Homo sapiens: one gene and its partners. The protein of the gene in region 3 purifies or fractionates together with the protein of the main gene of each other region. This does not show direct contact. Each region holds a gene or a part of one and is shown on either strand. Other genes may lie near its edges. The genes, in order: PCDHB13, SEMA7A and CLEC4A.

The links.
Region 1: the proteins of CLEC4A (region 3) and PCDHB13 purify together in Homo sapiens (co-immunoprecipitation; 2 studies listed by BioGRID and IntAct, with this or other methods). This does not show direct contact.
Region 2: the proteins of CLEC4A (region 3) and SEMA7A purify together in Homo sapiens (co-immunoprecipitation; 2 studies listed by BioGRID and IntAct, with this or other methods). This does not show direct contact.

What each region holds. Positions count from the first base shown.
Region 1 is NC_000005.10:141,212,285-141,216,034, forward strand, and holds the start of PCDHB13 (protocadherin beta-13 precursor), read left to right. Parts: upstream 1-1,634; 5' UTR 1,635-1,839; coding exon 1,840-3,750. UniProt on the Homo sapiens protein: Potential calcium-dependent cell-adhesion protein. May be involved in the establishment and maintenance of specific neuronal connections in the brain.
Region 2 is NC_000015.10:74,409,959-74,413,608, reverse strand, and holds part of SEMA7A (semaphorin-7A isoform 1 preproprotein), read left to right. Parts: intron 1-1,596; coding exon 1,597-1,724; intron 1,725-1,898; coding exon 1,899-2,053; intron 2,054-2,176; exon of another isoform or gene 2,177-2,252; coding exon 2,253-2,314; intron 2,315-2,623; coding exon 2,624-2,985; 3' UTR 2,986-3,650. UniProt on the Homo sapiens protein: Plays an important role in integrin-mediated signaling and functions both in regulating cell migration and immune responses.
Region 3 is NC_000012.12:8,121,972-8,125,721, forward strand, and holds the start of CLEC4A (C-type lectin domain family 4 member A), read left to right. Parts: upstream 1-1,645; 5' UTR 1,646-1,907; coding exon 1,908-1,989; intron 1,990-3,589; coding exon 3,590-3,706; intron 3,707-3,750. UniProt on the Homo sapiens protein: C-type lectin receptor that binds carbohydrates mannose and fucose but also weakly interacts with N-acetylglucosamine (GlcNAc) in a Ca(2+)-dependent manner. Involved in regulating immune reactivity.

The DNA of each region.
Region 1 (3,750 bases), on a different chromosome or scaffold from region 3:
AATATATTTTCCTGATTTGAGAGTTTGTTTTTAGCAGTTTTTCTTACCTATACTGCACTGCTGAATCAGGAAAATTTAAGAAAAAGAATAGATTTAAATGTGTAATATCAAAGAGAAATATAGATGATCATTAAATTTTTAGAAATTTTGGGGAGTTAAGGAGAAGCATTGTTTGTTAAAAATATATAACCGATTCTTATATTTAAAATAGGTAATTTTTGCATAGTTGTGTTCTAAATATATTATAAACTAGTGCCAGTAACTCTAATAAAGCTAGTATTACTGCATATCACTGGTGGGATAGAATCTAAGGACAAAAACTCACAGTAGTAAAATCTAAAATTGCTTTCATGGTCTCAGGGTAAAATTATCCAATTTCTCTGACAAATAAATGGCTCAAAAAATAAGAGGAGTGAAGTTTACACAAGGAAAAATCTTAAGAGGTCTACCACTCAAATACAATGTGTGGATCTTTTTTGGATCTTGATTGAAACAACAGCAATGACTTTGAAAAACTTGGAAGAATTTGAATATAGATGGGTATTAAATAATGTTAACTTGATTTTTAGGTATGATAATGGCATTGTACTTAAGCATATTTTTAGAGTCATTTAAAGTCATGATGCTTTTAAAGAAATGTATAATGACGTATTTGTGGGAGAAAATTCAGTTTGTCTGGGATGTGAAAATGTTGAAGGGATAGAGTCAAGAATTATGGCAAAACATTGATAATAGTTGAAGCTAGTACTGAGTCCTTGGAGGATCATTATACTCCTCTCTTTTATGAGATTTGAAAAATTTCAAAATAATGTCTTTTAATTGATGCTGTTAGAAGTGGAGGTAATAAAAAAGGACATCCTTCCCAGAAACAAAATCACCACTGCTGTTACAGATATTGTCTCTATTTAGACAAACTCTCCAGCCTTTCCTTGTTCATTTCCTTTCATTATTGGACATAACCTCTCTACCTGAGATAGTCATGCTCCTGTATTCTTCTACCATTTGAATTTCGAGGTGTTTATCTAGTTATAGTAATGGATTTATGCTAGACTTATGATGGATTTATGCCATCAAGACTCAGTTACTTGATGGCATCAAATTGCTTTATACTTGGTATATACCTTATTTTTAAGGTTAATATCTATTTGCATTAGATTCCTCATGTTTAAGGTGGGGAATTCACAACAGCCCTATGTGGTAGGTACTGTTCTTATCCTCACTTTACAGAGGAGCAAACTAAAGCAGAGAGATTAAATAATTTGTTCGAGGTTCACAGCTACTAATTATTCCTATGGTTCATGGAAATAAAACTATAAAGATCTAAATGTTGTCCATGATAACTACAATTATATTTGAAATTCTTTTTGCCAAGCTAGACTATTACCTAAATATTTCCTTTCTGCCCAAAACTCAGTTATCATTGTTGAAAGACTAATGTGATTTCTCCTTTGGGCAGTTGTCTGCTCACTAAAGTCCGGCGATATTAACGGTGGTGTTGTAACCTTACATAGTCTCGGGGTGCATACAGGCAGAGTTGGGAATATTACATCCATTATCATTCCACAAAATGTAAGATCCTGTGAGGACGCGTGGTGGCGCTGCAGGATAAGAAGGCACAAACCAGAACCGCAGCTGCAGCTCCATTAACCGGCAAAAAGCAGCAGAACCTGGAAGTCCACGGGGAGCTTGGATGCCAAAGGGAGGACGGCTGGGTCCTCTGGAGAGGACTACTCACTGGCATATTTCTGAGGTATCTGTAGAATAACCACAGCCTCAGATACTGGGGACTTTACAGTCCCACAGAACCGTCCTCCCAGGAAGCTGAATCCAGCAAGAACAATGGAGGCCAGCGGGAAGCTCATTTGCAGACAAAGGCAAGTCCTTTTTTCCTTTCTCCTTTTGGGCTTATCTCTGGCGGGCGCGGCGGAACCTAGAAGCTATTCTGTGGTGGAGGAAACTGAGGGCAGCTCCTTTGTCACCAATTTAGCAAAGGACCTGGGTCTGGAGCAGAGGGAATTCTCCAGGCGGGGGGTTAGGGTTGTTTCCAGAGGGAACAAACTACATTTGCAGCTCAATCAGGAGACCGCGGATTTGTTGCTAAATGAGAAATTGGACCGTGAGGATCTGTGCGGTCACACAGAGCCCTGTGTGCTACGTTTCCAAGTGTTGCTAGAGAGTCCCTTCGAGTTTTTTCAAGCTGAGCTGCAAGTAATAGACATAAACGACCACTCTCCAGTATTTCTGGACAAACAAATGTTGGTGAAAGTATCAGAGAGCAGTCCTCCTGGGACTACGTTTCCTCTGAAGAATGCCGAAGACTTAGATGTAGGCCAAAACAATATTGAGAACTATATAATCAGCCCCAACTCCTATTTTCGGGTCCTCACCCGCAAACGCAGTGATGGCAGGAAATACCCAGAGCTGGTGCTGGACAAAGCGCTGGACCGAGAGGAAGAAGCTGAGCTCAGGTTAACACTCACAGCACTGGATGGTGGCTCTCCGCCCAGATCTGGCACTGCTCAGGTCTACATCGAAGTCCTGGATGTCAACGATAATGCCCCTGAATTTGAGCAGCCTTTCTATAGAGTGCAGATCTCTGAGGACAGTCCGGTAGGCTTCCTGGTTGTGAAGGTCTCTGCCACGGATGTAGACACAGGAGTCAACGGAGAGATTTCCTATTCACTTTTCCAAGCTTCAGAAGAGATTGGCAAAACCTTTAAGATCAATCCCTTGACAGGAGAAATTGAACTAAAAAAACAACTCGATTTCGAAAAACTTCAGTCCTATGAAGTCAATATTGAGGCAAGAGATGCTGGAACCTTTTCTGGAAAATGCACCGTTCTGATTCAAGTGATAGATGTGAACGACCATGCCCCAGAAGTTACCATGTCTGCATTTACCAGCCCAATACCTGAGAACGCGCCTGAAACTGTGGTTGCACTTTTCAGTGTTTCAGATCTTGATTCAGGAGAAAATGGGAAAATTAGTTGCTCCATTCAGGAGGATCTACCCTTCCTCCTGAAATCCGCGGAAAACTTTTACACCCTACTAACGGAGAGACCACTAGACAGAGAAAGCAGAGCGGAATACAACATCACTATCACTGTCACTGACTTGGGGACCCCTATGCTGATAACACAGCTCAATATGACCGTGCTGATCGCCGATGTCAATGACAACGCTCCCGCCTTCACCCAAACCTCCTACACCCTGTTCGTCCGCGAGAACAACAGCCCCGCCCTGCACATCCGCAGCGTCAGCGCTACAGACAGAGACTCAGGCACCAACGCCCAGGTCACCTACTCGCTGCTGCCGCCCCAGGACCCGCACCTGCCCCTCACATCCCTGGTCTCCATCAACGCGGACAACGGCCACCTGTTCGCCCTCAGGTCTCTGGACTACGAGGCCCTGCAGGGGTTCCAGTTCCGCGTGGGCGCTTCAGACCACGGCTCCCCGGCGCTGAGCAGCGAGGCGCTGGTGCGCGTGGTGGTGCTGGACGCCAACGACAACTCGCCCTTCGTGCTGTACCCGCTGCAGAACGGCTCCGCGCCCTGCACCGAGCTGGTGCCCCGGGCGGCCGAGCCGGGCTACCTGGTGACCAAGGTGGTGGCGGTGGACGGCGACTCGGGCCAGAACGCCTGGCTGTCGTACCAGCTGCTCAAGGCCACGGAGCTCGGTCTGTTCGGCGTGTGGGCGCACAATGGCGAGGTGCGCACCGCCAGGCTGCTGAGCGAGCGCGACGCGGCCAAG
Region 2 (3,650 bases), on a different chromosome or scaffold from region 3:
CCATCCTTGCTTGGCTCCAGTAGTGGCTGGCACAGCTGTTGTGGTCAGCCAGGGATGGCAGGGCACTGGGGAGCAGAAGAGGAGAGGTCACACAGTGCGGAACTGGGAGCAGGAGCTAGGACAAGGAAGGCTGGACTTGGGCCATGGATTCCCTTCCTGCAGACTTGGGAGGTGAGCACACTTGAGTGATTAGAGAAGGTGTCTTCGTTCTAAGGGCAGTGGAGGAGGCACCATTTTGGAGCCTGCATCATTCGTATTTGGGCTAGACTGAAAAATAGAGCTTTCTAAGTCCTCTGCAGAGAATGGGAGGCTCTCACAACTGGGAGAAGTATTGGCTCTTTTCCTGAGAATTTTGCCAAGGGTATGCTGTTACTGGGGCTGGTTTGGAAGGAGGTATAGGGCAGTATGTCTGTGAAGGCAGTGGCTGGGGTGGGGCCTTATCAGGCCCAAGGAGCATCTGGCCACATCTCAGAGTCCACAGATGAGGATCACGGATGTGTAGAGGAAACATCCTAGGCAGGCAATCATCTGACTGCTTTTTTGGGGCAGGTGATGCCCTGGGAAATTGGGAGGGAGGGAGAGAGGGAGGTAGGCTATTCTAGAAACTGGGAGAGCAGGTGAGGTAGGATTGGGAGGACCAGGGGTCAGGGTGCCCATTGGTCCCTAATTGTGAACGGAGAGAGCATTGGTCTAGGAGGCAGGCAGCTCGGTTATAAGACCTTGGGAACTCTTGATTTAGAATCCAAGATCCTTTTTAGATCTAAGATTTTATAAAATTAAGATATCCCCTAAGATCAAATGCAACGTGGAGTCCTGAATTGGATCCTAGAACAGAAGAAGGACATTTGTGGAAAAACTAGTGAAATCCAAATAAAGTCTGTAGTTTTGTTAATAGTAATGCACCAATGTCAGTTGCCTAGTTGTGACAAATATACCGTGGTTATGTAAGATGGTAACATTAGGGGGAACTGGAGAAGGGTAGATTGGAGCTCTCTGTACTATCTTTGCAACTTTTCTGGGAATCTAAAATTACTCCAAAATAAAAAAAAAATGTATTTAAAGTAAATATATTCCCTAAGAGTCCAGGAGGCAGGGGAGTTGTAGAAGCAGCTGAGTGGTTGGGCTCTGACAGATTTGGGTTCCAACTCGGTCTCTGCTGCTCACCAGCTGTGTGACCTTGAGCAAGTGGCTTAGCCTTTCTGAGCCTGATTTCCTTATCTGTGGAGTGGGGAAGATGACAGCCACCTCGCAGGGCTGTGGAGGGTTAAACGAGGTGATGCATGGACAGCAGCCGCACTGACCTTGCTGGTGTGGGGCTCCTGCTTCTGTTCTTCCCGTGCAGCCTTGGGAATGTTGGAGGCCGTATCCAGGGACCCCTGGGCCTCCTGGGATGGCCTCTCTGGATCAGCCTTGGAAGGTTCCAGGCTGCCCTTAGGCTCCCACATTCTTCCCCAGTCACGCTCTCCTCGCCCTGCCCACACCAGTCCTGTGACCCTTGCCTGAGTTGTGACTTCCCACCCCTCCCCGGCCTAGAGGAAAGCTGCCTGGCCCCTCAGTGGGACTCCCGCCCACTGACCCTCTGTCCACCATACACAGACAGGGGCACTATCCACAAGGTGGTGGAACCGGGGGAGCAGGAGCACAGCTTCGCCTTCAACATCATGGAGATCCAGCCCTTCCGCCGCGCGGCTGCCATCCAGACCATGTCGCTGGATGCTGAGCGGGTGAGCCTTCCCCCACTGCGTCCCATGGGCTATGCAGTGACTGCAGCTGAGGACAGGGCTCCTTTGCATGTGATTTGTGTGTTCTTTTAAGAGCTTCTAGGCCTTAGGGCCTGGACATTTAGGACTGAGTGTGGGGTGGGGCCCGGGCCTGACCCAATCCTGCTGTCCTTCCAGAGGAAGCTGTATGTGAGCTCCCAGTGGGAGGTGAGCCAGGTGCCCCTGGACCTGTGTGAGGTCTATGGCGGGGGCTGCCACGGTTGCCTCATGTCCCGAGACCCCTACTGCGGCTGGGACCAAGGCCGCTGCATCTCCATCTACAGCTCCGAACGGTACGTTGGCCGGGATCCCTCGTCCCTGGGAGAAGGTGGGCATGGGAGAGGGGGAGGTGTTGTCGGGCTGGAGGAGGTGGCGGTACTGGGCCTTTCTTGTGGGACCCTCCTCTCTGCTGGAACTGCACTGGGGTAAGGATAGGAGGGTCAGGTCTGCAGCCTTGTATCTGCTGATCCTCTTTCGTCCTTCCCACTCCAGGTCAGTGCTGCAATCCATTAATCCAGCCGAGCCACACAAGGAGTGTCCCAACCCCAAACCAGGTACCTGATCTGGCCCTGCTGGCGGCTGTGGCCCAATGAGTGGGGTACTGCCCTGCCCTGATTGTCCTGGTCTGAGGGAGACATGGCCTTGTCCTGTGGGCCCCAGGTACATGGGGCAGGATACAGTCCTGCAGAGGGAGCCCTCTTGGTGGGATGAGCGAGACGGGAGAAAAAAGGAGGACGCTGAGGGCTGGGTTCCCCACGTTCATTCAGAAGCCTTGTCCTGGGATCCCAGTCCGTGGGGAGGACACATCCTCCCCTGGGAGCTCTTTGTCCCTCCTCACGGCTGCTTCCCCACTGCCTCCCCAGACAAGGCCCCACTGCAGAAGGTTTCCCTGGCCCCAAACTCTCGCTACTACCTGAGCTGCCCCATGGAATCCCGCCACGCCACCTACTCATGGCGCCACAAGGAGAACGTGGAGCAGAGCTGCGAACCTGGTCACCAGAGCCCCAACTGCATCCTGTTCATCGAGAACCTCACGGCGCAGCAGTACGGCCACTACTTCTGCGAGGCCCAGGAGGGCTCCTACTTCCGCGAGGCTCAGCACTGGCAGCTGCTGCCCGAGGACGGCATCATGGCCGAGCACCTGCTGGGTCATGCCTGTGCCCTGGCCGCCTCCCTCTGGCTGGGGGTGCTGCCCACACTCACTCTTGGCTTGCTGGTCCACTAGGGCCTCCCGAGGCTGGGCATGCCTCAGGCTTCTGCAGCCCAGGGCACTAGAACGTCTCACACTCAGAGCCGGCTGGCCCGGGAGCTCCTTGCCTGCCACTTCTTCCAGGGGACAGAATAACCCAGTGGAGGATGCCAGGCCTGGAGACGTCCAGCCGCAGGCGGCTGCTGGGCCCCAGGTGGCGCACGGATGGTGAGGGGCTGAGAATGAGGGCACCGACTGTGAAGCTGGGGCATCGATGACCCAAGACTTTATCTTCTGGAAAATATTTTTCAGACTCCTCAAACTTGACTAAATGCAGCGATGCTCCCAGCCCAAGAGCCCATGGGTCGGGGAGTGGGTTTGGATAGGAGAGCTGGGACTCCATCTCGACCCTGGGGCTGAGGCCTGAGTCCTTCTGGACTCTTGGTACCCACATTGCCTCCTTCCCCTCCCTCTCTCATGGCTGGGTGGCTGGTGTTCCTGAAGACCCAGGGCTACCCTCTGTCCAGCCCTGTCCTCTGCAGCTCCCTCTCTGGTCCTGGGTCCCACAGGACAGCCGCCTTGCATGTTTATTGAAGGATGTTTGCTTTCCGGACGGAAGGACGGAAAAAGCTCTATTTTTATGTTAGGCTTATTTCATGTATAGCTACTTCCGACTGCATCTGTATGAAAATACCAAAACT
Region 3 (3,750 bases):
CAGGATGAGGAGAGAGAGCATCCTTGCAGAGGGTAGACCTGGTGTGGTTTCAGAGACCAAGCATGATAAGGAGGGTGTCCATGTGGTGGGGTAGCCCAGTGAGGGAACTCAGATCCTAAGTAGGGTAAGATGGACATTATTGCTGGGGGATGGAGGACCTGCATGGAGTGTCAGAGCCCAAGCAGGATGAAGAAAGCTTCTATGCAGAGGGAGGACTTGGTGTGGGTTTCAGAAACTTAGCAGGATAAGGAGGTGGTCCATGTGGTAGGATAGCCCGGTGAGGAAATCAGACCCCTCCAGGGTGAGGAGGGCTTCCACCCATAGGGTGACCTTGTGTGGAGCATTAGAACCTAAGGGGGTCTAAGTGGTGACTAGGGGACCAGCATCAGGAATCAGAGTGCAAGCAGAGTGAGGAGGGCTTTCCTGCAGAGGAATGGCCTAGCACAGGGAGTCAGAGCCTTGGCAGGGTGAGGGGGATGTTTGTTGGGGGATGTTCATGGGGGTGGGGAGTGGGCTGGCCCTTTGCCGGCACTCTCAGAGTGAGGAGGGAGGGCATCCGCGCAGGGGATGGTGGCTTGGACTGGGGAGTCAGAGCCCAACTAGGAAGAGAGGGACATCTTAGCAGGTGGGAGATTGACGACATCCAGGAGATTGATCAAATAAGGAATAAGTGAAAGACAATGAAAGCAGGTTTCTTAGTGTCACAGAAAGGAGTTAGGAATGTGGGAAGGGAGAAAACTAGAATGAAACTTGTGGTGTTAGATTGGAATTAGAGGAATTAGTGTGAACTCATGGTGTTCAATATATTTAGATATAGAAATAATATAGAAATATAGACGTGTGTGTTTGTGTGTGTGTGCATGCATGTATGCATGTGTGTTATGCAGGAGAAGGAATCAGCTGGGGGAGATTAAAAGGAGGATCATTTGCGGAGAGTTGAGGGCAGAGAATCCAGGTGTGAGCTGGGAGCATGTCTATGGAGAGATTCCACATGAAGGATTTAATATTTGGAGTGTTTTCTTCTAGGCCTTTGGAAAAAGTCATATTTAGTACTTTGTTTAAGTTTATCCCCTTCTATACTGTGATTCTATATAATTCTCCTAACTGTTAAAAAATAGTCATATATATTGGAGGTGATGTGGCGATTAAAAGGTTAGGGAAGCATGGAATAAAGGCTGGCCTTCCCTCTCCTCCAACATCCAGTAAAGGGAGCTGCTTTCTGGAGATTCTAGCAAGATGAATGCAGACTTTTGATAGAGTTAGTTACCAACAAGGAAACACAGAGAGCATGGAGGAACAGCTTCAGAAGACATGGGGTTTAAACTTTGCCATCCCCACCATGCTACAGGAAACTAATTCGTGAAGGTGGGGAGGCTGATATGTGAGTTTTGTGTCAATGATACTCTTAGAATGTGGTACTAACAAGTTGCCTGATCAGTCAAAATTGATGAGATGAATGCAACATAAGTCTATGTTCAGGATGTTTGGTCAAAAGTAATTACATTTGTGTGTGGAAGCACAGAAATTGTATTTTTTACTGGTGAAAAACGCAGTTCTCCAGAAAGACTCTAAGTGCTTGGTTCTTCTTTTATTTTTCTTCCTCTTTCCGCAACCCTTTGAGTTCCCACTTTTATTGCATTTGCTTGCATTTGTTTCAAGGCTGTGATTCTCACTATACTGGTCCTGAGGAAAGGGCTTCTGTGAACTGCGGTTTTTAGTTTTTATTGTGGTTCTTAGTTCTCATGAGACCCCTCTTGAGGATATGTGCCTATCTGGTGCCTCTGCTCTCCACTAGTTGAGTGAAAGGAAGGAGGTAATTTACCACCATGTTTGGTTCCTGTTTATAAGATGTTTTAAGAAAGATCTGAAACAGATTTTCTGAAGAAAGCAGAAGCTCTCTTCCCATTATGACTTCGGAAATCACTTATGCTGAAGTGAGGTTCAAAAATGAATTCAAGTCCTCAGGCATCAACACAGCCTCTTCTGCAGGTAAAGATCATTTTCTAGGGGTCAGAGTGAATGACGAGGTGAAGGATGAGGAGAGGGTTTATGAATAAGGCATAGGTGTTTTCAGTTGCTGGTTGTCTGATTGAGTATGTCTGGGAAACACAAGAGTCCCAGAAGATTGAGTGGCCTGCAGATACGCATTACGGGGTGTACATTTGTATTGTGGAGAAGAAAAGATTTTGTGCCACTCTCTTCAGCCTCCACTCTGCTTACTGAAACAGAGGTGAGAGAAATCCACTCCAGTTCTGAGCTAAGGCGAGTGCTCTGATGCCCCTGTGTTTTCTGAGGCTGAGTGGGGCTGGGGTTAAGAGATTGAGTACAGCTTCTGAAACCATCAATCCAGATGCAGGGGGTCCTGATGAATTTGTGAGATTTGTTTTTTGATCAGTTAGAGGGAAAGAGTTTGGGTGGACAGTGGTGAGGGTATATTTGTTGGTAATGGATGGAAATGTAACAAAAGGCCTTTGCAAATGAAAGACTAGAAAGTCTACAAAGAAAGTCTCTTAAATCTCCAGGAAACTTTTTCTGAAATCAGAGAACCTATTGCGTGTTGCATCTCTGAGACAGACTCTGTTACGTTTGGGAGTAGATGCAAGGTGATTTGGGTGTCATGTGTGATATCTCAAGTATAGAGCAAAAGAGAGAAAAGAATGTATATAGAGTACAAGAAACTATGGGGGAAGGGGTCAGGACTATAGTTACGCTTTCTAAAATACCTCTGTGAAGGTGTGGAGAGCACTTAGGGAAATTTTTTCTCCTTAAAAACTTTATATAATTTCTTTATTACACAAGTATTAATGTTCATTGTAGAAAAAATTAACCAGAGGTACACAGATATTTGAATTATAATTACTCTTATCATCTAGAGAAAATCATAATTTGCAATTTAGTGAATATCCTTCCACATACAAATACATATAATGTGCATATGTATTTTACTAAAAATGTAATCATATTATATAATACTGAATTTTTTTCCCCCATCATTTGACAAAATATCATAACTCGAAGAAAGTGATTCCTAACCATGAGATGGTAACTAAAAAGACTGACTTTATTCTAAACATGTGATGAGGAATGATTATAAAGATTTATTTGCTATAGCATTATTTAAAGTTGGAAACCATTATTTAAATATATGATGAAATACTATGCAACCATAATAAGGAGTGTTAAAGAAGAAAATATAATGGTATGAAAAATGTTCATGATATAGTGTAAAGGAAAATAATAGGTCAGAAATCAGTATTTATGGTATGTCAATCGTGGGAAAATTTGCATATGTGTATATATACATTCAAAAAATTGCTAGAAAGATATATACCAAAATATTATGGTATATTATAAGTTATATGGCATAACAGTTATCCTCAATTGTAGGAATTCGTACTTTTATGTATTTTTTAAAGTTTCTACAGTGAATATTATTATATCCTTTCTATTCCTATTCTCATGTGATTTCAAATGTCATACCGTTAGTAACTGTGTGTCATCCAAGAAAAGAGAGAGAAAGAGGAGGAGGAAGAAGAGGAAGTAAAGACCAAACTTATTACTGATAAAACTAATTTGGCTTCTTCTTCAGCTTCCAAGGAGAGGACTGCCCCTCACAAAAGTAATACCGGATTCCCCAAGCTGCTTTGTGCCTCACTGTTGATATTTTTCCTGCTATTGGCAATCTCATTCTTTATTGCTTTTGTCAGTAAGTATGCCAACTGAACCAATAAGCAATATCTGCTGTCCATG